5 separate regions of the Homo sapiens genome follow, and regions 2, 3, 4 and 5 are each reported to be linked to region 1. The links are microRNA targets in miRTarBase. Many come from high-throughput screens and were not tested one by one. Region 1 holds a microRNA gene; each other region holds the end of a gene's coding sequence.
Evidence for each region. The annotated mature microRNA hsa-miR-378a-3p reads ACUGGACUUGGAGUCAGAAGGC and lies in region 1 at 1,113-1,134, shown strand. An mRNA with a match to its seed (bases 2 to 7 or 8) in the 3' UTR can be bound and repressed. Matches are read on the target gene's strand: a 7mer-m8 pairs with bases 2 to 8, a 7mer-A1 pairs with bases 2 to 7 and ends in A, and an 8mer does both.

Region 1 (4,000 bases):
GCGACTTGGAAGGGACGCCGCAGCCGAGACGTTCAGCTCCGGGCAGCGACTTCGGGCTGGCGGCTGGGACGGCGTGGCGTGGCAGGGTGTCGCCGAGAGGAAGCCCGCCACGCGGGAGGCAGGCCGCCCCTGGCCCGCTGCAGACGCCGCTGCGTAGGGGAGCCGCGGGGCCGCGTGGTCGGTGGCGGGCGCGCTCGGGTGGGTTCGCGGCAGAGGCCGGAGGGGCTAGTGGCGTGTGATTGCGCTTCTCGAGATCGAGGGGAATGTGTGATGAGCGGGTTGCGCGCGCGGGTGTGTGTGTGTGTGTGTGTGTGTGTGTGTGTGCACACGCCGCGCGCGCCGGGCGCGTACCTTTACCTCTGACGAAACTGCGGTGGAGCTCCCGCCGTCGTCGCCGGGCTCCGTCACACGCCCCGCGCCGGTGTCTGCGCCGAAGGCAGGTCCCAGCCTCAGTACCCCCAGAGCCGACAGCTTGGGGCTAGCGGGCACTGAGTGCGGGAGGAGGGGCAGAGTCACTCCTGGGAAGATTCTGTCCCCAGATCTCGAAATTGCCCTGGGGCGTCTCCGAATCTCTTGGCTGAAAAGCGGATGAGAGAGGCCTGAAATAGCCGGAGACTCGTTCAGGGACCCATGTCAAGAACTGTCCGCTTTGGACTGTACCCCGGATTTTAACTCGATCTTCAGTGTTTGGCTCAGCAATAATTAATTATTTTGCCCTTTAGCCGCCCAGCGAGCCTAGCTAGCAGAAATATTTCAACTAAGGAAACTAGAAAATTGAATACTCAGGTGTTTGCAGGAGCAGTGCAGTGAAAGTTAATCTGGGACATTTGCTTTTTTTATTTAACCACATGACAGGCCGAGGATCTTCTGGTGATCTTTGCCGGCCCAACTTGGGAAATGTAATTGATAGGATGAGCTTTGAGCCGCCCCTAGAAGGCTCGGAGAGCCCAGCCGGAAGAGGACCTGGGCGGGCCCAGTGTGCTCCTCCTTATTTTACAGCTGGAGAAAGAGGCTGCGAGGAGTGAGCGGCTTGTATGGGACCATGCAGCCAGAGGGTGACAGAGCCACCCAGGGCTCCTGACTCCAGGTCCTGTGTGTTACCTAGAAATAGCACTGGACTTGGAGTCAGAAGGCCTGAGTGGAGTCACCTTCCCCACTCTCTGGCTGGGTGACCCCGGAGCAAGCCATTTGAACTCTCCGAGCCTCATTTCCTCCATCTGTCAAATGGGGCTGGTGGTGCCGCAAGAGAATCCAATGGCCTGGTGGTGGGGGTGAGCAGTGTTTGCATGTGAGATGTTCTGGTTGTTCCTGCAACCCCCTCTCCTCCCCCAAACTTTCCCTGACCCTCCCCTCCTTCATCTCCCTTTGGGAGCTTTGGGGAAAGTGGATTAAATGGTAATTCATTGTCTTTGTCCCAAAAGATTGTTGTTGTCTTTGGTGGCTAATCCAGGGTTAGATTAGAGGGAGGACTTCTGTTTAGGAGACTTAACTTTTACCCATTGGGGCCAAAGTACGGAAATTTAGCAGAACAAGGATTGCGAAAGTTTCTTGGAAAGCTTTGAGGCATGGATCCCAAAGGACTGTGGGTGGCTTCACCTTTGTTCAGGCTATGCCCCTGGCCCAGAGTACCCTCACTCACCCGTCCTGCATGGCCTTCTCCTCTACTAGGCTCTCCCAGCCCAGCTTGCCCTGCTTTCTCTCCTTTGGTTTTCTGCATCTGTGTGATACAACCAAGCACTTTGTGTGAGTCTGGTGTCCAGTAAGATTCTAGCACTAGGGTTGTACCTTTTATCATTGTGCCTGCAAGGCACCTGTCAGTATGCTGAGCTGTGTTCCTTTGCTTAGCTCTTGGCTAGGCACATGGATTACAGACAGGGGTGCAGCTGGGTCCTGCCAAGCAGAAGCTCCCAGGCTAGCAGGGGAGACAGCTGGGCAGCGAGTGTGGGAGAGAGGAATGCAGAGGGCTGCAGCTGTGGGCAAAATTTTAGACCCCAAAGGCCACACAGCAAGTCCACACTAAATATGGGCTATTTGAAGTTGCTTAGGGCATCAGTCATAGATGCACAAAATGTCAGAGTTGGCAGCGGGAATGTTAGAAATCATCAGTTCTAACAACTTATTTAAAAATATTTAATTATAGAATTGTTAGAAAATACTGCCAAGCATAAAGAAAAAAATGAGAAATATGTAACATGACCCAAAGATAACCACTTAATTGTCATGTATATTCCAGACTGTTTATTTCCTGTTCATATAGATCACATCTTATTTTTAAAAAATGGAGTCGCCGGGCACGGTGGCTCACCCCTGTAATCCTAGCACTTTGGGAGGCCGAGGCGGGTGAATCACCTGAGGTCAGGAGTTCCGGACCAGCCTGGCCAACATGGTGAAATCCTGTCTCTACTAAAAATACAAAAATTAGCTGGGCGTGGTGACACACACCTGTAATCCCAGCTACTTGGGAGGCTGAGGCAGGAGAATCGCTTGAACCCGGGAGGCGGAGGTTGCAGTGAGCCGAGATCGCGCCACTTCACTCTAGCCTGGACAAAAGAGCGAAACTCATTCTCAAAAAAAAAAAAAAAAAAAAAAAAGGAGTTATCCTGAATATACTGATTTGTAACTTGGAATTGCACTGTTCTGTAACTTGTTTTTTTTTTTCCTCTTCCAAACAATATGCTGTGAACATCTTTCCACATCAGTAAATATTCTACTTAGTATCTTAATGATTATATAATGTTTTGTTGAAGATTGAACCGAGATGTATTTAATTAATCCTTTATCGTTACTCATTTACGTTGTTTAATTTTTTTATTTTGCTATTGTAAGCAATGCTAAAACGAATATCTTTTTATGTATGTCTTTGTTTCTTCCTTTAAGTTCCTAGAAGTGAAATTACTCCATCAAACTCATTCCTGGATTCTCTTCTAGAAAGATTGTACTTATTTGTGCACTGGCATGGTCTGGGAACACCTGGTTTCCTATACCCAGATAACTGTTGATATTTTCATTGTTTTTCATTTTTACCAGTCTGTTCGTCAATAAATTCTGTTACCCTTATTGTTTTAATGTGCATTTATTTGATTACTTGTGATGCTAAACTTCTTCCCCATATGATCATGGGTGACTTGTGGTTCTGTGTTTCTGAACTTGGCCCATTTTGCAATTGGTATCTTGTCTCCTCGTTGTTCTAAAGCTGGGACTGAGCACCCAGAAGGGCCCCCTGCCACATGGAGAACTGGGAAAATGGCTCCACACACCCCTTGAAGCCAGGGCCAACTTCTTTTTCAAATCAGTTTGTAGATTTGGACAAATGTATAGTGTGTGGGAGAAGATTGAAGCATAGCCTTCACTGGGTGCATTTGCCCATTCTTTATCTGTGTGAGACTTAGGGAGAGTAACTTCTTCACCTGAGCCAGAAGGGGTCATGTTCACCAGAGACCTGGGCTCCACTTTCATTGGGATTCCCTGGCTGGTGCTAATGATCAGGATGCCTGTGAAACCCAGGAAGGGCAATGGCCCAGCAGCTGTGCCCCACGGGCTCATATTTCCTCTTTACCTTAGGGCCCTCCTCTTAGCAGCTCGTGCAGGCCAGGCAGAAGTTCCACTATGCCACGTGAGTCACCCTCTTCCTTCTTCCTCTGGAATAATAGAAGAAAGACTGGCTCGAGTGAGAAGCAGTCTTGCAAAGGGGGCTCAGGCTTGGAAATGCCTAACAAGAATATTGCAGTGTTGATCCTTGCCTTCTCCTTCATCGTCATCATCAGTGACGTTTACTGAGTATCCCCTATACCCCATGCAGTTTTCTGAGCCTTCTGTTTGCACTACTACATTTCATTCTCATAGATATTGTGCAAAATGTAGGTGCTGTTGCACAGCTGTACAGATCTTACAGTTTCAGAGAACTCACTGACTTGTGGAAGACTAATTACCTTTGAGTAAGTAGAAGAGCCAGCATTAGTGGGCAGTGTTCCCAGACTATTTGACTCTAAGCTCCTTGAAG
Region 2 (6,436 bases), not on the chromosome of region 1:
TTTTCAATTTTTGTTCCCTTTTGTTTTTTACCTTCAATGTGAGATAATTAAGTTAATCATTAAATCACATTATATCTTTAATCCACATTTCAGATGTATTTGCTGACATAAGGAATACCTTTTGTTTCTAGTTAAGAGTAAAAGCCCATGTTTCACTCAGAATTTTACCAGAAAATAACAGCATTTCAGTAGGTGGCAGTCTTCTCTCTGAGTTTTTATTTAGTCATACTGTTGGATCTTTAGGATCTTTTGGGAAACAAATTATTGTTAGTCAGATAAGGTCACTTAATTCTTTAATAGCTATATTGAAATTATTTTAGTGTTGTGACTTTGTTGAGATGCATCTGGAGGTGAAGCCAGTTTTATATTATGTGTTCTAACTGCCTGAATGCCGTGTTCTTTATTGAGTTTCTTACCTAAAAGTGAGAAGGTTTATAAAGTCTATTAAGTATTTAAGCATATTAAATGAGTACATTTGTGTGTATATATATATTATTTAGAGATTGGAGGAATCTTAAGGAGGTTAGTGTGGGGCAGAGTAGAATACAGAGGACAATGCCAGTTCCACTTCAGAGCCATAATCTAGTGTTTATTTATTTAGGGGAATGTGAAAATGTAATCAGTGATAAAAATGTTGCTCTCACATATGCTGAAAAGAATGTTGAGCACTTTGTAGAATGCTGAGAAACAGTAGCCACTGAGCGATTGGTTTTTAGGTATGAACTGGGTGGCTTCTTTTAGAAAATGCCTGAGAAGTAAAATGTGTGTTAGAAAACAGCAGCTTTAGAGACAAAGGAAGGGATCCCACAAATAAGTTGGTTTACATTTTTCAATAATATTTTTACATTTGGATAACAGTATTATTATCTTTGAACAGCATCTGGAAGGGCATGAGGGTGGAATTCAGAAGGAGTCCCAAAAGGAGGGAGTTAGGATATGGGAAGCAGATGCGATTGGGTTTAGCTGTAATTTATACCATTTAAGTCATCATTTGTATCTCTCTTCTGTCTTTCCTCTCCAATTTACTACACACATGCTTCTTGTTTTTAGTGATTTGATTACTGTCTTGCAGTTGGGGTACAAATTTAGTTTGAGACTTCATATTTTAAATTCACAAACTCCTTTTCCTCCTGGTGAGGAAAGTCATACACATACAGTAGATATCTTCTGTTTTTGTTTTTGGATCCCCCCCACCCTGTTTTCCTGGTTAAAAATTTGCTGGAGTTAATAAATGTTTCCCTAAGAATCATATGCTTAAGTATTTCAAAGGCTTATACTAGTAATGGTAATGTTTTATACTTATCTAATATTTTTTATGTGAAACTTTAGAGAATTTTACAGGTATTGCTTTTTAAATTATTAAATATATTTGTGGTTGTTATTTTAAAATACTACTTTACAAAGGAGAAAACTGAGGTAGATATAAGATGTATCCCAAATAATCTAAATCATTAGAGTGACTGTCTTCCAAGTTGTCTTTTCTAACTCATCTTAATTTTTTATTATAAGTTAGTTTTTTATTATTACTTCAAAATAAGAACTCATAATTAAAAATATGTACATAATGCACGTATCTTCAAATACAGATTTCACAGATGACAGGCACTTGATATTACTATACAGGCTTATTGTTTTTTTCCTCATAATTGTTAGTAACCTCATGTATATATTTCCTTTTTATCTACTTTATATAAATAAATATGTCTTAGTTCACCCAGTAGTTATATTAATTGAAAAGATTGAGCCCATGGGTTCAATGGGGTTTTTATGAGTTGAATCAGTTTAAGTGCGTCAGGTAACTTTACTATTGAAGAAAATCACTTAAATGTATATTTTTATGTAATTCTGGATTTTTATAGCTAGATTTGCTTTAATTTTGGTACATCTAGGCTTAACAAATTGAAAAATTGTATTTCCTTGTGACAGAGTTTATCCTTATAGTGTAAAATATATTACAGAAATGAATGGAAGTCTGCAAGTAAAATTCCTTAAGCCAAGAGGATCTTGTTTATAATTGTCTACTTTAAATTTATCTTGCCCTTTTCTGTATAAAAACATAGTATATCCATATTATTTCAACCTTCTCAGGCCTGCTCCTTTTCTTCAGAGGATTTGTTAATTATCTAAAAGTCAGAAACATGTCTGAAAGTATGGCAGCTGCTCATAGAACAAGGTATTTCTTCTTATTGTAGAGGTAAGAAATATTAATCTGTGAACTCTGCCTATTCCCTTTATGTATTCAAATTTGCCAGATACATATTAAATGCCTAATGTGTATTCATGATTTTTACTGTTAGCATATTTAATATTTTTTAATACTGCTAACAGTCAGCTTATTGAAATTTGATAAGTCATAGACCTTTTTAGATAACTTTTAGATTTTTAAAATTGAATTTCATAAATTTTAATTTTTAAAATACATAGCGAGTGAACTGAAATTTTGAATCAGACTTTTAAAACTTCTCTTTAAAGATTAACCATAGAATGTATATGAAGTAACCACCAGCACAAAATTTGAAGGCTTGAAAAAACAAAATATGACATAGTACTTAGACCGAAGGAATGAGCATTTTTGTCTAAAACAATATGAAATTCACATAGACATCTGGTGGAGAAAAAAATCTGATTGAAAAACAATTTGTCTTGCAGTCCTTTTAACAGTCTGGATTAAGGAATAAAAGTCATGTGAAGAAAATAGTTCTGTTATTGTTTTCTTAATGTGTGCTGATTTTTTATCAACTATGAAGGCTACAACTTGAATAAGTAGGAATATGAAGAAATGAGTAGAAGTTGTCTTACTGGTTATCCAGTGAATTTCTGGAGGTCGTGGGTATAGTAATAGTATTTATTTATTGTTCAGCGGGAGTATCTTCACATAAAGTAACCTCATACTCCCTATTCTACTTTTTAAAGCAAGTACCATGTACTTTATACCTATAAATAAGGTAAACTTATAAAGCATTTGAACTCTATTACCAAAATGTCTACTAGTACTTAACTTCTGAATGCAGGACTATAAGGAACAAAGTGTTTCAAGTTTATTAAGTATTCTTTTTTCAAATAAATAAACTGCATGCTTTGTGATTTGGTTGCTTACATTTTATCATTTATATAAGTTATACATAAGCTTATATAATTTACTTATTTCTGCTAGAGTACTATGAATACATTTGTATTTCTAGATCATGTTAAAGTATCATTTTAAGTGTTCTACTAAAGTCTCCCCCAACCACTCCCAAAGAAGTCGCTTTTTTATTTTAACAAGCAAAATATCTTTGCAGACACTGGCATTAAGAATTTGTCAGTATTAATAATAAGATTAAAAGGCAAAGTAATTTTGCTGTTTTACTAATTTGTGTGATTGTCTTCTATGCATTTTGAAGAGTCTAAAATACAATGCAAATATTTTCTAGATGAAAATCTGCTATAGAAGCCTTACACTTTAGAATGTATTCTGATATGTAGACTTTAATGAAGAGAATATTATATACTTAATATAATTCTTCTATAAAATGTGTTGTATTATACTATGATTTAGATAAAGACAACTTAATACATTTTAAGACTAATTCCTTCTTTGTCTCCAGACTGCATCAACCCGACATTCCTTTCTTATACCAATGTGAAATTTCCAGATCATCTGTAAACCTACAACTTTAATAGAAGACTACTAATAACAGAAGACAAATTAGTGAAGAAAAGACGGAGTTTCGAAATTGAATGGCAGGGTGGTTTTTGCTTACAAGCCATTTCTGTTCATTCTTTAAGTATCTATATTTCATTTGTTTTGCACATATGCATATGTGCCCATTTAAGATATTTGCATATACTTGATAGAAACCATAAAGTTGTAGCAGTTAAGTCCAGTCACATTTGGTTAATCAGTGTTTGATATAATTGAAAGAGTTGAGTGGATAAACAGTCTTCCAGCTTGTAAATGCCATTGACTTCTGACCTGACATTTAGTATAATAAAAATGAAATTCTTAACCATGTCAAATGATTTAGTTTCTGGCTCTTAGACTCATCTGGCAGTTCTACACATGAAACATCTTTTGTTATATAAGGTGTATTGAAACCTGCAGTGCTGATTATTAGAAAGGATTTGTCAGATTTTTGAACATGATATTTACATTATTATTTAGGAAAACTCTTCCTGTAAATAACCATGCATAACTTACTTTCTGCAATGTTTTCTTAGAAATTGTGTCCAGATAGCTTTCACTAATTTTAAATTAAGTGAACTAAATATATATGTGTATATGTATACACATATATATACACACACACATATATATATTTAGAAACGTGAGTGTTAAAGATAGAATTTGTTTTAGGACAAATTTTAAGAAAATGTGGGAATACCAAATGTCCTTTATAAGAAAAATAAATTTTATTTTAAGGGACATACTAGTTTTAGGGATTTTCAGATGGGAAGCTGCATTTTTAGGATTGCCCATCTTAAGAGATCTTGCAGGAAGAGATTGTATTAGATATTATATTTATTTCATTTAAGATAATTTTCAAAGTTAATTTTCTAAATAAGATAATTCTCATTTGTGTTTGTCTTTTAAAAGGCCAATAAAATATCTTTCAGTATCATTGTAATAATTTTTTAGAGTTTAATTTGTAAAGCTTAGCAAATAAAATCTTGTACTATGAATAGCTTCTTGCTTTATGACTTTAGGATTAACTTGTAAAAAACATATCCTGAACTGAGATATGCAAAATACTCATTTTCAAGTTATGGAAATGTGTTTGTGGCATATAGGACTGTGGGGTCTGTGTGTGTAGTGAGAGTGTGTAGCCACTATTATAACTGGAATTTAATTTACATTCATAAACTACTATATTTCCCATCTTGCAAATCATTTTATGTCTCATCTGTTTTTCCTTTCGGTTATATCTTTGGTTTTGAATACCAACATTTAAAATGATGGTATTTTATCTTTTAAACTTAAAAATTATTTAATACAGCTATATGGACCTTATAAAATTGATTTCTTATTTATTATTAGACATTACTACTAAAAGGTACATCTAACTATTCAGGGACATTTTTCCATTTCCAAAAAATAAAATTTATTATGCTTTATAACCTCTTCTGTATTTTCTAATTTTTTCATTGTCTTTGATAAATAAAACAGTTTTGTTTTGCTAATATAGCCTATTTTTTGTTTTGTCTCATTCAGTTTACTTTCCTGCGTAGAATTTTTATTGTTATATTAAAATTTTTATTGTTGTATTAAAGTACCTGTGTTACACCCCTTGAAGTAAGACAGTAGCATGGGGTAAAGAAAAAATATTTAGTTTAGTTGCCTAATTTGGAAGTTAATTAAAATTAAACTGTACTAATAACATATTCAAACTCATGCTGGATCTCTTTCATATTAATTTCTTATAGACCTGTACTTTATTCTTTCAATAATTTTTAAATGAAATTAAGCTTTGCTACATGGTAATTAAATAATTACTAGGAAGCTTAGCTATCAAACATCGACTTACTAAAATTTCATTTTAGCTTTTATGGTATATGTGCTTGTTTTCTGAATATGGATACATGTTACTTTTGATCCAGCATCAAAACTTCACTTTTTGTTTTGACTTTTCCCCCCAAATCTGTAAGGTTCAAGTATACATATTACTGAATCCTCTATAATTGGCATAATTCAATGGTAGCCTTAAATCTCATCATGTAAGCAGGGGAATCAGAATGTTATTTTCAAGAACTTAATGTTCCCTTCAGATATATAAAATCCTGCATACTTCATTTCCTGTGAGCTTGAACAGCTGCTGTTGTGTTTTGGGGATGCTTGATCATCTTTGCACTCTGCCTTAAAGATTGAAAAATCAAAACTCTTGTTAGGGTATCTAAACATTTTTGAGTGTGAACTGGGGATTGGAAGTTAATACAAAAAAATTTCAAATTATTTCTATTGTAAATGAATAAGCTAGTCATGGCTAGGATAATCCATTTTCATGTATTTATGCAATAAACTGAATTTTAAGGCAAAAACAACACTTTTCTATATAGTGTATGCAGGACAGATTTTAGAAACTTAGATTAAAATACAAATCCCATTACATTTGGTTAAAATGAAAATCTCTGCTTAATGGAAAAAATACTAATCTTTAGCCTATTTTGAGTCTATAAGATATATTTCATTTTAGACATGCCTTCTAAGTTGTTCACAGATTTTTACCTGCTAAAACAATATTATTTCCAGTAAAACCTCTCCTAACAGGAAAAGTGGAGTTCAAAATATCCAATTGGAGAAAAATTCAGAGTTCCTTCATTAAATATAATTTTTTTCATCTAGTATGTACTATTTCAAGAAGTGCAAAAAGTAATGATAGTGAATGTGATACCATACTTAACTAAGGTAATATATATCCTTAGTTTGCTCAAAAGAGTCCTGGTTATTCCTGTTTTCTCA
Region 3 (4,000 bases), not on the chromosome of region 1:
TTTCGACCTTCAAGTCTTATTATTTGAGAAATACATTTCATAAGGCTCTAGCTGCCATGGATAGTGATGTCTCTGATGGATCTGGGCAAAGCAAATTGAAAACCTTCTGGAAAGGATTCACCATTTTAGATGCCATTAAAAACATTCGTGATTCATGGGAGGAGGTCAAATTGTCAACATTAACAGGAGTTTGGAAGAAGTTGATTCCCACCCTCATTGATGACTATGAGGGGTTCAAGACTTCAGTGGAGGAAGTAAGTGCAGATGTGGTGGAAATAGCAAAAGAACTAGAATTAGAAGTAGAGCCTGAAGATGTAACTGAATTGCTGCAATCTCATGATAAAACTTTAACAGATGAGGAGTTGTTTCTTATGGATGCGCAAAGAAAGTGGTTTCTTGAGATGGAATCTACACCTGGTGAAGATGCTGTGAACATTGTTGAAATGACAACAAAGGATTTAGAATATTACATAAACTTAGTTGATAAAGCAGCAGCAGGGTTTGAGAGGATTGACTCCAATTTTGAAAGAAGCTCTACTGTGGGCAAAATGCTATCAAACAGCATCGCATGCTACAGAGAAATCTTTCATGAAAGGAAGAGTCAACTCATGCGAAAAGCTTCACCGATGTCTTATTTTAGGAAATTGCCACAGCCACCCCAACCTTCAGCAGCCACCACCCTGACCAGTCAGCAACCATCAACCTCGAGGCAAGACCCTCCACCAGCAAAAAGAGTACGACTCACCGAAGGCTCAGATTGATAATCAGCATTTTTTAGCAATAAAGTATTTTTAAATTTAGGTATGTATATTGTTTTATTAGACAATGCTATTGCACTCTTGCTGGTCTACAGTATAGTGTAAACATAACTTTTATATGCATTGGGAAACCAAAAACATTCATGTGACTTGCTTTCTTGTGTTGGTCTGGAACTGAACCTGCAATGTCTTTGAGGTATGCCTCGACCTACCTCCTTAGGTTGCTGTATGGATCCCATGAGACAGTAACTTATAGTAATGGCAGCTAATGTTAACATTTGAGTGTTTATTGTGTACAAGGAGCTAATCCTCTGCCCTCTGAGGCTTTCAGAGAGGTTGAGAGACTTGTGCCAGATACACAACTAGTAAGGGGCTGGTGGGAACCGGAAATGGCCCCACTGTCATCAGATTCCCTCCCTGATTGAAGTTCTCCCCCACTCTCCCTAACTCCTCTAGTTCTCTATAGCTCTGACTCTGCTCTTGCTTCAAACACACTGTGCATGCACAGACACAGACTCACACTGGAGTAAATAATACGAACTTGCTGGTGATTGAATCCCAAAGACAGCAATCCTGTGCTTGGAGGGAGGGCATATTTCCAAGGTCCCCTCCTGCCAGCATATCCTGTCGTCAGGCCTTTATGTGGCACTTTCACTTTTCTTTTTTCAGTTTTGTAATTTTTTTATTTTTTTTGAGACAGGGTCTTACTGTGTCATCAGGCTGGAGTGCAGTCACATGATCACAGCTCACTGCAGCCTAGACCTCCTGGGCTCAAGCGATCCTCCCACCTCAGCCTCCCGAGTAACTGGGACTACAGGCATGCATCACCACGCCCAGCTAAGTTTTGTATTTTTTGGTAGAGGCCGGGTGTCCCCATGTTGCCCAGGCTGGGTTCCTGGGTTCGTGGGCTCCTGAGCTCAAGCAGTCCACCCACCTTGTCCTCCCAAGGTGCTGGGATTGCAGGTGTGAGCCACCACACCTGGCCAGGAATGGATTATTTTTTGCACCTTATTTACAGATGAGGGAACAGCCTCAGGGAGCATAGGTGACTTGCCCAAGGGTGTCCCCTGGTTACCAGCCAAACTCGTGTGCCGGCTGTAATCTCAGAGCAGGACCTTGCCTCTCCCCCAGGAAGACCCCAGCCTTACTACCTGATTAGTGGGGTCAAGGGAGGCCAGTCAAAGTCTCCTCCTGGAATGAAGAGCTCAGTGGCTCTCTGTTAACTCCACACCTCCTCTTGCCTAGCTCTTCCTTGTCTTAACCATCCTTTGGGAAGAAGGGCCTGTTTTTCAGGCCGTAGAATCTTAGAGTGTCAGATTGGGTCAGAGTCAGGAATTCTGGACTTCAAACCTTGTTTAACCACCACTGTTGTGTGGAGTCCCGCTTACTCTAGGCTCAATTTGCCTATATAACATGGGGAATAATGACTCTTGCTTATCCATACTGCTGTGAGGAGCTCTTAATTAAAAAGGAGGCCAGGTACAGTGGCTTATGCCTGTAATCCCAAGACTCAAGTGGGAGGATCACTTGAGCTCAGGAGTTCAAGACCAACCTAGGCAACATAGCAAAACCTCATCTCTACTAAAAATTTAAAAGTAGCTGGGTGTAGTGGTGCATGCCTGTGGTGCCAGCTACTTGGGAGGCTGAGGCAGGAGCATTGCTTGAGCCCTGGAGGTTGAGGCTGCAGTGAGCCATGATCATGCCACTCCACTCCAACTTGCATGACAAGAGTGAGGCTCTATCTCAAAACTAAACAAAACAACAACAACACATCAAAAACTAAAAAAAAAAAAAAAAAAAAGAGGATTACAAAACTCAGGAAATCGTCTTGTGGTCAGTGGCAGAAAAATGCACATGAATGGAAAGGCCACTGGGGCTGTTGAGAATTGGGTGCTTATTGTACCCAGAAGGCACGGGGGGGAGATGCCAGCTGGTATGGGCTGCTGCCCTGCTTTGGAGAGAGCATCGGCTGCTACTCTTCACACCTCTTGTGACTGCCCTCTTTCAGGGAGAACTTGTAAAAGGGGAGCCAGTCCCAAGTCCGAAGGTATTATACAAAACAGTCCTTCGGGCTTCAGACTGATGGGAATGAATAATGCTTTGCCTAAGTGAGGGGAGTGCACTGAGTGGAGGGGTGGCTGGTGCCAGGATGAGCTAGCCAATCCCACGTGTGTGCTGACTGCAGCAGGACACTAGCCACGGCCCACCCCCAACCACTCTCGGACTCCAGCTCAGACTGTTTCCCCAGCTTTTCTCAGGGCTGTTTGGCTCACACAGTCCTGAAGGGCACTTCCCAAAGAGCACACTTAGGACCTCAGTAGGAGAACGTGGCTGATAAGACTCAGTGTGACCCACGTGTGTGACTCCCACATGCCCCACAGTGGTTGGTTGGCTCAGTCTGGTGAGGGCAGGTAGGGGCGTGGATCTCCAGGGAATGGCAGGGCCGGCACCCGGTTGTAGTGGGCCATGAGGAAGATGCCAGCTGTGCCACAGATGAAGAGCGAGAGCATGGCCAGGAAGCAGACGCGGTCCAGCACTCGGCCCACCAGGAACCACTCCTCATTCCCCTGAGGGTGGGAGGCAGGTGTGGGATAACCAGCGGCGGCACCAGGTCTTCCCTGGGTCCTGTTCTCATCCTTGGGCTTCCAGCAGGCCCATGTCTCCATTTCCTGGGGCCCTTCTTACCTATGTCCGGGTCCCAACTGGTGGCTAATTCCATGGCCCCCTGGCCCTGAGGTGCCCCCCCTGCCCCTGTTCCTTTTTCTTTCTTTCTTTCCTTTTTTTTTTTTTTGAGACGGAGTCTCACGTCTCACTCTTTCACCCAGGCCAGAGTGCAGTGGTGCGATCTTGGCTTGGCTCACTGCAACCTCCGCCTCCCAGGTTCAAGCAATTCTCCTGCCTCAGCCTCCTGAGTAGCTGGGAATACAGGTGCCCGCCACCACACCCAGCTAATTTTTGGTATTTTTGGTATTTTTGGTAGAGATAGGGTTTTGCCATGTTGGCCAGGCTGGTCTCAAACTCCTGACCTCAGGTGATCCACTCGCCTCGGCCTCCCAAAGTACTGGGATTACAGGTGTGACCCACTGCACCCGGCCTCATGTTTTTCCATCCCACTGCCCTATCTTGGCAACCCCACTCATCCTGTCTCTATCACGGTTCCAAGCCCAGGTACTCACTCCACCTCCACCCCACCCTGACTCAGCTTACATTGTCAAAGTGACTCTGCTGGTGCCGGGCACAGG
Region 4 (6,436 bases), not on the chromosome of region 1:
CCAGCCCATGAGGCTCTTTGTAATGTTCTTCCATAAGCCTATGTTCACTAATTTGCTTTTGATATGGTGCCTTCATTCTCAACTGTGGATCGTGTCTCCCAGTCCAGGGACTTTCTATTTGAACCTTCTCCTGAGGATACACCTCTAGGCTTCTGCAAGAGTGATGGAGGTGGGTGGGGAGGAGGGACATTTTTGTCCAGCTGAAAAAAAAAAGGGGGAGGGATTTTATTGATCTAACTGCATTTTAAACAGCTTTCAACCAATACTATTTTAGCCTCCTCTCTCTCTTCACTATCACTTCAAAGGGATATGTTGCTGTCAATTTTTGAGCCTTTAGGGTATCCTGCATTGAGAATAAAAACACTGATGCTCATTTTCTCCTCTGCCAAATTAGAATTAAGTTTTGTTGATCATATTTCCAAAATTCTGGTGCCAATAACTCCTCTTTCTTCCCAGTCTTGAGGGTTGAGTTGTGACTTAAAAAAATAAAAAATCCTTTACTTTTAGTGGTGTCAGGAGCATTCAAAATTTGATGTGCTCAATTTGTCATCTTTACCCAGAATAATTACCATGCTTCATATAAGTGAGGTTCAATAAAGTGACAGTTTTTTTTACCCATTTTCCTGAAAAATAAAAGAGATAGTGGGAATTCCTACTAAGACAATCTAAAATCACAAAACCATGGCCATAGCAGGAACACTGTGTTTTATTGCTGTTGTTGTTGTTGTTGTTGAATGAGACCTGCAGGAAAGGACATGAACACTCTATAGAGTTCGTCAGGGGAGAGGAAGCACCCAGTGTGCCAGGTGAACAGAGGGAGATCTGGACTGAGTTTTGGTAGACAGATAAAGTATTAGGCAACAAGGTACATTATCCACAGAGACTCTGATAAAGGATTAAACTGGCAGCCTGTATAGTCCACAATCACCTTTTAGTTGGCCCATGGAGGAAATCTGGATATTTAGCTTCTTTTGAAACATGGACATATGTGATTGTGGCTCACAGTCCTCCAAGGCCTTGGTCAGCAAGAGCTGAGCTGCTGCTGTCTCTGCAGAAGGCCACCTGCCTGGCCTCCAAAAACACGTGAATTTTCAACTAATCTGAATGTGCTTTAAGTATTTAAAAGGGAAGAATAAGGCTGGGTGCGGGGGCTCACACCTGTAATCCCAGCACTTTGGGAGGCCGAGGCGGGCAGATCACGAGGTCAGATCGAGACCATCTTGGCCAACATGGTGAAACCCCGACTCTACTAAAATTAAAAAAATTAGCCGGGCGTGGTGGCGGGCACCTGTAGTCCCAGCTACTTGGGAGGCTGAGGCAGGAGAATGGCATGAACCCGGGAGGTGGAGCTTGCAGTGAGCCGAGATTGGGTCACTGCACTCCAGCCTGGGCGACAGAGCAAGACTCCAACTCAAAAAAAAAAAAAAAATTATCCGGGCATGGTGGCGAGTGCCTGTAATCCCCAGCTACTTGGGAGGCTGAGGCAGGGGAATCACTTGAACCTGGGAGCTGGAGGTTGCAGTGAGCTGAGATCGCGCCACTGCACTCCAGCCTGGCGACAGAGCAAGACTCCGTCTCAAAAAAAAAAAAAAAGAAAGAAACAACAACAACAACAACAAAAGCAATCCTAGTCATGGCAGAAAAACCCTATTTAAGTCAGAAAGAATTAAAACATTTATTGGGCATAAATATATTACATATACACTACAGATACAGTTAGGTATTACATATAGCATAATATTTGCAAAATCTATACATTAAAATTGATATGGCAGTTTTAATACAATGTATATGAAATAGTCTAAAATTTACAATACAGGAAAACATGATTTTCTTTTTCTCCTAGAGTTGAAAAGCTTGGAATGTATGTCCAACAGTGAGGTAAAACATTTTATCTTTCAATTTAAAGAATTGTGCAAGGATAACATTCAAACACATTCAATTAGGGCACTTCTCAATTTTGACATGAATACTGAATTATTGTAGCCAACAAAACAAGGTTAGAAAATGCCAACATTTCAAGTTGATAAGAACAAGGCAGAGAATATGCAAAAAATCTCTTTAAAAAGTTTTCTTTTTCAACAATTTCTTTGAGGACAAAGGGCAGTTTGCTTCACATGACTGGAATTTCTTGTGCCAGGGATGAGTTTGACATACAGAGAAGAGTCAGAGCATCAGAAGGCCACTCATTCACTCCTCACATAGCAAAAGGGCAAAGAGATCAGGTTAATAGAACACTTTATTTTATTGTTCGTGTGTGATGGCAATATATATAGTTATATATCAATATCACATATACATATTTGTGATAAAAAACAGTGCCATAGAGAGTAATAATTTTCTGACTGAAGGAATATAATGAATACCAAATAATGGAGAGCAATAAAATAAAGTGCTGTCAGCTTTGTACTTCACACACTTCAGCTTCCTGGTGGTTAAATGATAGTATGAAAATCTCAAGAAGATCAAATATTCATATAAATTTTGGCCTAAAGTACTATTTACTTAAAAAAAAAATTCAACCAATTAGAGAATTTCTTTATAGCAGCAGTTCTGAAGTGTTTCAAAAAAGAGACTTCCCCAACCCCCCAAGAGGGGGCTTTGTACTCAGTTGAATTTTCATTGCTTAAAAAATACCTCTCCCCAAAACACCTGCATGGAATTTTTTAGAAAATGCAGATGCTGTGGTCATAGTGGGTCATAGCACACATTTAAATAAGGGGGTGAGTTTTGGAAGGCCAGAACTTTGGCAAAAATATATTTACCTTGATGCCATCAGTTTGCAAAGCTAATTAAACTAATTATTATAGTCAATAATAAAATACAGAACTCTCTAGTACTCACTACGTCAATATAGGCACACAGAATAATTCATTGATCTCAGCATTTTCTTCCAAGAGATGATTATGGTTTTTGGGTACATGTAAACGTTTCAATCACTGATAATGTATTTTTTTTTTGGCATTTAATGCACTAGATGCTCTTATCTTTTTAAAAACATAAGAAAATGTCAGAAGATTAATAATACTACAGATGTTGCCAAGGAACAAGACTGACCTAAAATTACAAAAGTATAAAACACAAAAATATAACATGCTACAAGGGAAAATTAGTACATAAGTACACTTAAAAAATTTTACAATAAATAAAGATTGCACTGTAATTGGCATTTAAAGTACTGTATGCAGAATATAGTATAAATAAACCAAAAACAAAATAATGTTTGTTTCCCCATGACTTTGGTATGGGAATATTATAAGCTAGTACAGGATACTGCATCTTAGACAATAAAGATCAAGCACAAAATAGCTATGATCAAGAAAAACCAAGTAGCAAAAATATACAAAAACAGAAGCAGGGGGATACACTGTGTCTGTTGCACCCTTTTGGAATATATTTGCACCTCCAACTCTTAAATGTCCCTGAGGTACTCGAACATTATGGACTTCATATAAATAATCCAATGACTTTGGGTTAAAATTGATTATCTCATGACTCAAAATAAACACGTAAGAGTAACACTTTGCACTCCAATAGCACCTGTTGGTCAAAGATCTCAAAGCACTTACAAACATTAGAATCCCCGTTTTATTTTATTTTATTTTTCATGCATGGGAAAACTGAGGCACAGAGAGGTAAAGTGACGTGTTCAGGTCACGCAGCAAGTTAGTGACAGATCCAGGGAGAGAATCTAGGCTCCTTGATCCCCAAACACCCTGTGTTTACCATCAAACACCATTCCCTCTCCAACCATGGCCAGGCAAACCCACAGAAATAGGAACTACAAATTTAGATGACTCTCTTTTGGGTTTTATCAATTTTCATCTGCTGTTACATTAGTATTATGTGCACTGAATTAAGGTATTGAAATTCAATCACTTCATTGATACCTCAAAGAACAGCCTAAAGGCAAATGTTTCAAAAATAATGAGCTGACACATAAGAAGACTGCTCACAATTAGTGTAAATCATGGACAATGGGCAGAGGCACTAAACTGTCACCAGTTCTTGTCATATAATTCTGGTCAAACATAACAGAATATAATAACTCTAGTGATTAGATTAGAAGTAGTTATATACAAAGACAAACAAACAAGTTAAAGCAGCCTTTAAAATAGCTGAACAAGAAAACAACTAACTATTGCACAATGCCCTCTTAAAGTTACTGCTATGAATTGATGTGGTAAAATCTACAATGCTCCATAATTTATAGGTGCATTCTGGTTACTTGATTTCTTATACAGGCAGCTCATAGTGTTAAAATTATAAGAAATACAGATTATTAAAACATTTTAGATTAAAGTACACATTTTGATTTAAATGAGCTAAACACAGTTAAATAACTGAGTGACAAAATGGTTGTTTAGGGCAGTCTTATCTGAGTGAACATATCTTCTGTATGTTGCTGTTGCTGTGTGGTAATACTCTGACAACACTGAAATCCTAGCCCTGTAAGTACACACACGGTGATTCATGTTTACAGATACAGATGTTCAAGACATATGAAGTGACTGGTGAATATAAATTACTAAACTGTAACAAAAAAAAAAAAATCAAAGGCTTGCAAAAGACATCAGTGAAAACAGAATGAAGGTAAATCTGAAAATTTAAAGGAAAACATAAGAAAGCTAGCTTTTGGTATCTGGTATACTTTTCTTCTTTTTTTTTCTTTTTTTTAAAAAAAAAAATCCAGTTTAACCTTTTCCTAGTTTTGCATTTCAAAAAGGTGCACCAAAACACTGACATTTTTTTTCTAGCTAAATCTGTAAAACAGAGTATATAAATCAAAAAACAAAAGGGCTTTAAAAAGGGGAGTATCTGAATAAATGTGTGTATTAAAATGTGTAGCATTAATTCATACCTCTAGTTTTGTTGGGTTTACTTCATTAAGAAGTACTGTAATATAAAGGCAAATAAAATGGACAAAGTTGCAAAGCCAAGCACAATGATGGCTGCAAACTGTTCATCAGTAGGCATCATGCTCTTCATTTTGGGATCATCTAAGCTCCCCATGTCCCCTGTAAGCATGACCTCACTTCGTTGTAATACAAAAGCCGCAGAGGGGCTGAAGGCTCCGCTTAGCTCCTGAGAGGTGTCTAAACAGCGACGACACGCACATACGCGGAACCTGTAGTCTGTGTTGGTCTGGAGGCCTGAGATTTGGAATGTGGCTTCTTCTCCCTTGTACACCTTCAGGAAAAGAAGAGTCCTAGTTAATTAATTTATAGCAACACTGTTGTCTCTAGAAGAATCTTGGTTTAGATTCACTCCATTCACTCTTGGTTTATATTCACATTCACTCTTATAACAAAGATGATATAAAAATGTACTTCTCTCAATCTGTATTCCAACCATAAAAAGGGTATTCCAACACACTTTGAATGAAACAATATAAAATCCAGTGACTCGAACTTTGACAGAAGGAGATAAGGCACTGACTAGAAATGCAGCTGACATTTTAAGTAGTAAGGATGCATCTCACTAAATTTTAATAATTTAGGTCAGCGGTCCCCAACCTTTTGGGCACCAGGGACTGGTTTTGTGGAGGACAAGTTTTCCACGGACAGGGGTAGTTTCAAAGTGAAATTGTTCCACCTCAGGTCATCAGGTGTTAGATCCGCATGAGGAGTGCACAACCTAGATCCCTCGTATACACAGTTCACAATACGCTTCATGCTTCTGTGGGAATCTAATGCCTTACTGATCTGACAGGAGGCAGAGCTCAGGCAGTAACGTTCCTGCTTGTCAATCACTTCCTGCTGTGCGGCCTGGTTCCTAATAGGCCACTCACCAGTACTGGTACCCGGCCTGGGGGTTGGGGACCCCTGATTTAGACTATAAATCAGAAGATGTCATAATACAAATAGGTCTATGTTTTTGGTCCCAAGAACAAAGTTAACATTCTAAAATGGAAACAATTAAAAACTGAGCAAACAAAATGTAAATTTTCCAGCAGGATGATTTTTTGACAACTGGATACATTACAAACGCATCCCCTCAAGATATCCCACCTCCACCCCAAGAGGTAGACACTATAATGACTTCTAATTCTGTAATTAATTTTGCTTATACTAGGAGTTCATATAAATGGAATCATGCAGAACACACTCCCTTGTGCCTATGAGATTCACTCATGTTATCGAGCTATTCGGTAGTAGTTCCTTATAACTATACCTTAATTCCTCCATTTTCTTTTCGATGGACATTCGGGTTATTTCCAGTTTGGAGGTTTCGTATAATAAAAATGCTATTAATAAGAATGTTATGAATGTTTTTGTTCAAATTTTGAGAACTTAAGTTATTTTTCTGGGTAAATACAAGGAAGTGCTGGGTCACAGAGTAGTTCTGTAGTTAACTTCACAAGAAACAGTTTTCTCAAGAGATTGGATCCCTTTGCGCACGAGAGTCTGAGTTGCACCACATCCTCTTCAACATT
Region 5 (4,183 bases), not on the chromosome of region 1:
AAGTAGCTGGGATTACAGGTGCATGCCACCATGCACCGCTAATTTTTGTATTTTTAGTAGAGGCGGGGTTTCACTATGTTGGGCAGGCTGGTCTCGAACTCCTGACCTCAGGTGATCTGCCCCCCCTCAGCCTCTCAAAGTGCTAGGATTAGAGGCATGAGCCACCACACCCAGCCTGGAGCACCACTTTCTGTACGTGACTTCAGTAGGATCCATCGTTAAGCTGGGCCTTGTCGAAAACTGCAATTAACCAGGCAGAGAAGGGGGGCGCCTGTGGTCCAGGCCAAAGGCCCAGCAAGCACAAAAATGTGAAATCCCTAGACTCCCCTTCCAGCTGGTAAGTGTGGCCAGATCTAGGAGGGACAAGGGAGGAGGTCAGAGAGGTGGGCCCGTCAAAGTGTGGGGGGGAAAAGGGACCACAAAGAGGGCAGGAAGGCCTCATGCCCTGAAGGAACCCTGAGCACCCGGTGCCACTCCTAGGACTGGAAGCTGACCCTGATCACCAGGGTGGGACTGGCGCTGTCACTCTTCTGCCTGCTGCTGTGCATCCTCACTTTCCTGCTGGTGCGGCCCATCCAGGGCTCGCGCACCACCATACACCTGCACCTCTGCATCTGCCTCTTCGTGGGCTCCACCATCTTCCTGGCCGGCATCGAGAACGAAGGCGGCCAGGTGAGGTCCCGCCCCGCTCCCTCCTGAGCTCTGGGGTCAGGGAGGCCTGGGAGGGGTTAGCCCCGCCCACTCCCGGGGCTCAGTCGGGTAGGCGGGCCCTGGAGGCATGAGGCCCCGCCCCTGTCCGGGATCTGGCCCCGCCCACCGGGGGGTCGGGTTGTCTCTTTAAAGGGCGCTGGCTTTGGAGCTGCCTGGCCACACCCCGAGTGCCCGCTCGCTTCTGAGCGTTGTTGGGGGTGGGCCCTGGGGGGAAACCTGGCCCCCGCTCCAGACCCGCCCACCCTCCGGCTGTGGTCCCGCCCACTCTCGGGACCTGGCAGGCGACTGGCTCTGGCGCCGCATGCCCCTCCCCGCGCTGACGTCGCTCCGCCCCTCCGTCCCCGCCCCGCAGGTGGGGCTGCGCTGCCGCCTGGTGGCCGGGCTGCTGCACTACTGTTTCCTGGCCGCCTTCTGCTGGATGAGCCTCGAAGGCCTGGAGCTCTACTTTCTTGTGGTGCGCGTGTTCCAAGGCCAGGGCCTGAGTACGCGCTGGCTCTGCCTGATCGGCTATGGCGTGCCCCTGCTCATCGTGGGCGTCTCGGCTGCCATCTACAGCAAGGGCTACGGCCGCCCCAGATAGTGAGTGCAGCGAGATGGGGCAGGAGGAAGGCGGGGTGCTGGGCCTGGGGCTCACAGGCAGTGCCACACACAATGTCCGGCCGCCCTCCGTTCCGCTCCTGGCTTCCTGGGGCACTGATGGGACCCCTCCCTTCCCTCCTAGCTGCTGGTTGGACTTTGAGCAGGGCTTCCTCTGGAGCTTCTTGGGACCTGTGACCTTCATCATTTTGGTAAGTACCCACTCTCCCTCCACCGAAGCCCGAGCGCCACAGGCCCAGGCCCGGCTGGACCATCGCTCTCGCCCTCTAACCCACAATCTGCTCCCTGCCCAGTGCAATGCTGTCATTTTCGTGACTACCGTCTGGAAGCTCACTCAGAAGTTTTCTGAAATCAATCCAGACATGAAGAAATTAAAGAAGGCGAGGTGAGAGGAGAGGCTGGAAGGACTTGGAGGCGGGGCCGGGGTGAGGGGCATGAAGCTGGAGGTGAGGTGGGGGCCCACGCTGCAACCCCGCTCCTCGCAGGGCGCTGACCATCACGGCCATCGCGCAGCTCTTCCTGTTGGGCTGCACCTGGGTCTTTGGCCTGTTCATCTTCGACGATCGGAGCTTGGTGCTGACCTATGTGTTTACCATCCTCAACTGCCTGCAGGGCGCCTTCCTCTACCTGCTGCACTGCCTGCTCAACAAGAAGGTGGGGGCCTGGGCACAGTGGCGCACGCCTGTCATCCTCCCACCTATTTGGGAGGCTGAGGTGGGAGGATTGCTTGAGCCCAGAAGTTGGAGACCAGCCTGGGCAACATAACCAGATGCTGTCTTTACAAAAAAATTCAAAGATAGCCAGGGTGAGGCGCCTGTAATCCCAACAGTTTGGGAGGCCGAGGTGGGCAGATCACCTGAGGTCAGTAATTCAAGACCAGCCTGGCCAACATGGTGAAACCCTGTCTCTACTAAAAATACAAAAATTAGCCAGGCATGGTGGCACACGCCTGTAGTCCCAGCTACTTGGGAGGCTGAGGCAGGAGAATCATTTGAACCAGGAGTGCAGTGGGCCAAGATGGCACCATTGCACTCCAGCCTGGGTGACAGTGAGACTTGTCTCCAAAAAAAAAAAAAAAAGCCGGGTGTGCTGAATACCCATCTCAGCTTCTCAGGAGGCTGGGGCAAGAGGATCACTTGGGCCCAGGAGTTCAAGGTTGCAGTAAGCTATGATGGTGCCACTACACTCCAGCCTGGGTGACAGGGGGACCCGATCTCAAAAAAAAGACAAACACAAAAACACCAAGAAGGTGGGGCTGAGGGCAGAGCATGGGGAGGAGCGTGCATGGTCCCAGGGCCTGCTCCTGCCCTGACTTGGTGTCTGGGCCGGCAGGTTCGGGAAGAATACCGGAAGTGGGCCTGCCTAGTTGCTGGGGGGAGCAAGTACTCAGAATTCACCTCCACCACGTCTGGCACTGGCCACAATCAGACCCGGGTAAGGGGCTGCGCCTGGGGCGGGTGTGGGCAGGAAGGCACCAGGGCTAGCGGGGCTCAGGCCTCTGGGCTCTCCTCTCCAGGCCCTCAGGGCATCAGAGTCCGGCATATGAAGGCGCATGGTTCTGGACGGCCCAGCAGCTCCTGTGGCCACAGCAGCTTTGTACACGAAGACCATCCATCCTCCCTTCGTCCACCACTCTACTCCCTCCACCCTCCCTCCCTGATCCCGTGTGCCACCAGGAGGGAGTGGCAGCTATAGTCTGGCACCAAAGTCCAGGACACCCAGTGGGGTGGAGTCGGAGCCACTGGTCCTGCTGCTGGCTGCCTCTCTGCTCCACCTTGTGACCCAGGGTGGGGACAGGGGCTGGCCCAGGGCTGCAATGCAGCATGTTGCCCTGGCACCTGTGGCCAGTACTCGGGACAGACTAAGGGCGCTTGTCCCATCCTGGACTTTTCCTCTCATGTCTTTGCTGCAGAACTGAAGAGACTAGGCGCTGGGGCTCAGCTTCCCTCTTAAGCTAAGACTGATGTCAGAGGCCCCATGGCGAGGCCCCTTGGGGCCACTGCCTGAGGCTCACGGTACAGAGGCCTGCCCTGCCTGGCCGGGCAGGAGGTTCTCACTGTTGTGAAGGTTGTAGACGTTGTGTAATGTGTTTTTATCTGTTAAAATTTTTCAGTGTTGACACTTAAAATTAAACACATGCATACAGAAGATGGCCTTGCCTGCTGGTGGTGATTCAGAGGCCGGGCCCAGGGTGTCCGTGAAAGGCCAAGATGACCAAGAAATAGATGGGGTGGGAGCCAGGCTTCCATAATAACAAGTTTATTCTCATACAATCTCTAGCTTCTCAACAGTGGCGCCTGGAAAGGGGAGGTGAAGCTGCATGCGGGCGGCTCCGGGTGGGCGGCTCTGGCACGTGGTGGTTACCGGCTCTGCTCGACTGTAAGACATGAGATGCAGTGAACTGAAGGGCCGGGGGAGGAACCCTCTGCCCCAGACCCCTGGCCCTGCCCAAGGCACTTACTGTATGTGGAGATGTCGATTTCCTCTGGAAGTTCTGCCACATTAACTTCAAACCGGTCCTGGACGTCATTGAGGATTTTGGCATCATTCTCGTCAGACACAAAAGTGATGGCTAGGCCTTTGGTGCCAAAGCGACCCGCCCGGGCCACCTGCAGGCAGACAGGATCAGGGTCAGGCCACAGATACTACCTCAGGACTTGAGGAAAAGCAGGGCTGGGGCCCCACCCCACCGCCAGGGGAAAGCAACATGCCCGTGAGGCTGCTCACCCGGTGCAGGTAGGTGTCCGAGTCCTCAGGCATGTCGTAGTTAAAGACGATGTTGACTCGCTCGATGTCCATCCCCCGGCCAAACAGATTGGTGGCCACCAGGATCCGCCGCTGGAAATCCTTGAACTGCTGATAGCGTGACAGGCTG

Region 2: miRTarBase lists NDFIP2 as a target of hsa-miR-378a-3p. Seed matches in the 3' UTR shown: 7mer-m8 at 3,861-3,867 and 7mer-A1 at 4,208-4,214.
Region 3: the mRNA of TIGD1 is a reported target of hsa-miR-378a-3p. The part of its 3' UTR that is shown has no 7-base or 8-base seed match.
Region 4: miRTarBase lists FNDC3B as a target of hsa-miR-378a-3p. Seed matches in the 3' UTR shown: 8mer at 822-829.
Region 5: miRTarBase lists DDX39A as a target of hsa-miR-378a-3p. The part of its 3' UTR that is shown has no 7-base or 8-base seed match.

The regions. Positions count from the first base shown.
Region 1 is chr5:149,731,755-149,735,754 of GRCh38, forward strand. MIR378A (microRNA 378a) reads left to right here and starts at 1,071; the gene lies at 1,071-1,136. All of the region lies in intron 1 of PPARGC1B (PPARG coactivator 1 beta), which reads left to right. RefSeq lists a silencer at 1-223.
Region 2 is chr13:79,548,929-79,555,364 of GRCh38, forward strand. NDFIP2 (Nedd4 family interacting protein 2) reads left to right here. Exons shown (of 8, transcript NM_019080.3): 7 at 2,089-2,194; 8 at 3,588-6,436. The coding sequence ends at 2,192. Among named protein-coding and RNA genes, the nearest start is that of LINC01068, 15 kb to the right of the region's middle.
Region 3 is chr2:232,544,868-232,548,867 of GRCh38, reverse strand. TIGD1 (tigger transposable element derived 1) reads left to right here. Exons shown (of 1, transcript NM_145702.4): 1 at 1-4,000. The coding sequence ends at 761. CHRNG (cholinergic receptor nicotinic gamma subunit) reads right to left here. Exons shown (of 12, transcript NM_005199.5): 11 at 3,966-4,000; 12 at 753-3,325. The coding sequence ends at 3,152. Among named protein-coding and RNA genes, the nearest start is that of TIGD1, 3.7 kb to the left of the region's middle.
Region 4 is chr3:172,395,918-172,402,353 of GRCh38, reverse strand. FNDC3B (fibronectin type III domain containing 3B) reads right to left here. Exons shown (of 26, transcript NM_022763.4): 26 at 685-5,190. The coding sequence ends at 4,879. Among named protein-coding and RNA genes, the nearest start is that of GHSR, 49 kb to the left of the region's middle.
Region 5 is chr19:14,405,268-14,409,450 of GRCh38, forward strand. It overlaps DDX39A (DExD-box helicase 39A), which reads right to left. Exons shown (of 11, transcript NM_005804.4): 9 at 4,036-4,180; 10 at 3,770-3,917; 11 at 3,531-3,685. The coding sequence ends at 3,669. It overlaps ADGRE5 (adhesion G protein-coupled receptor E5), which reads left to right. Exons shown (of 20, transcript NM_078481.4): 14 at 481-672; 15 at 1,064-1,290; 16 at 1,433-1,499; 17 at 1,602-1,693; 18 at 1,794-1,962; 19 at 2,641-2,742; 20 at 2,825-3,456. The coding sequence ends at 2,854. Among named protein-coding and RNA genes, the nearest start is that of DDX39A, 12 kb to the right of the region's middle. RefSeq lists enhancers at 1-517, 90-384, 518-1,147, 2,530-2,759, 3,980-4,029 and a silencer at 662-1,181.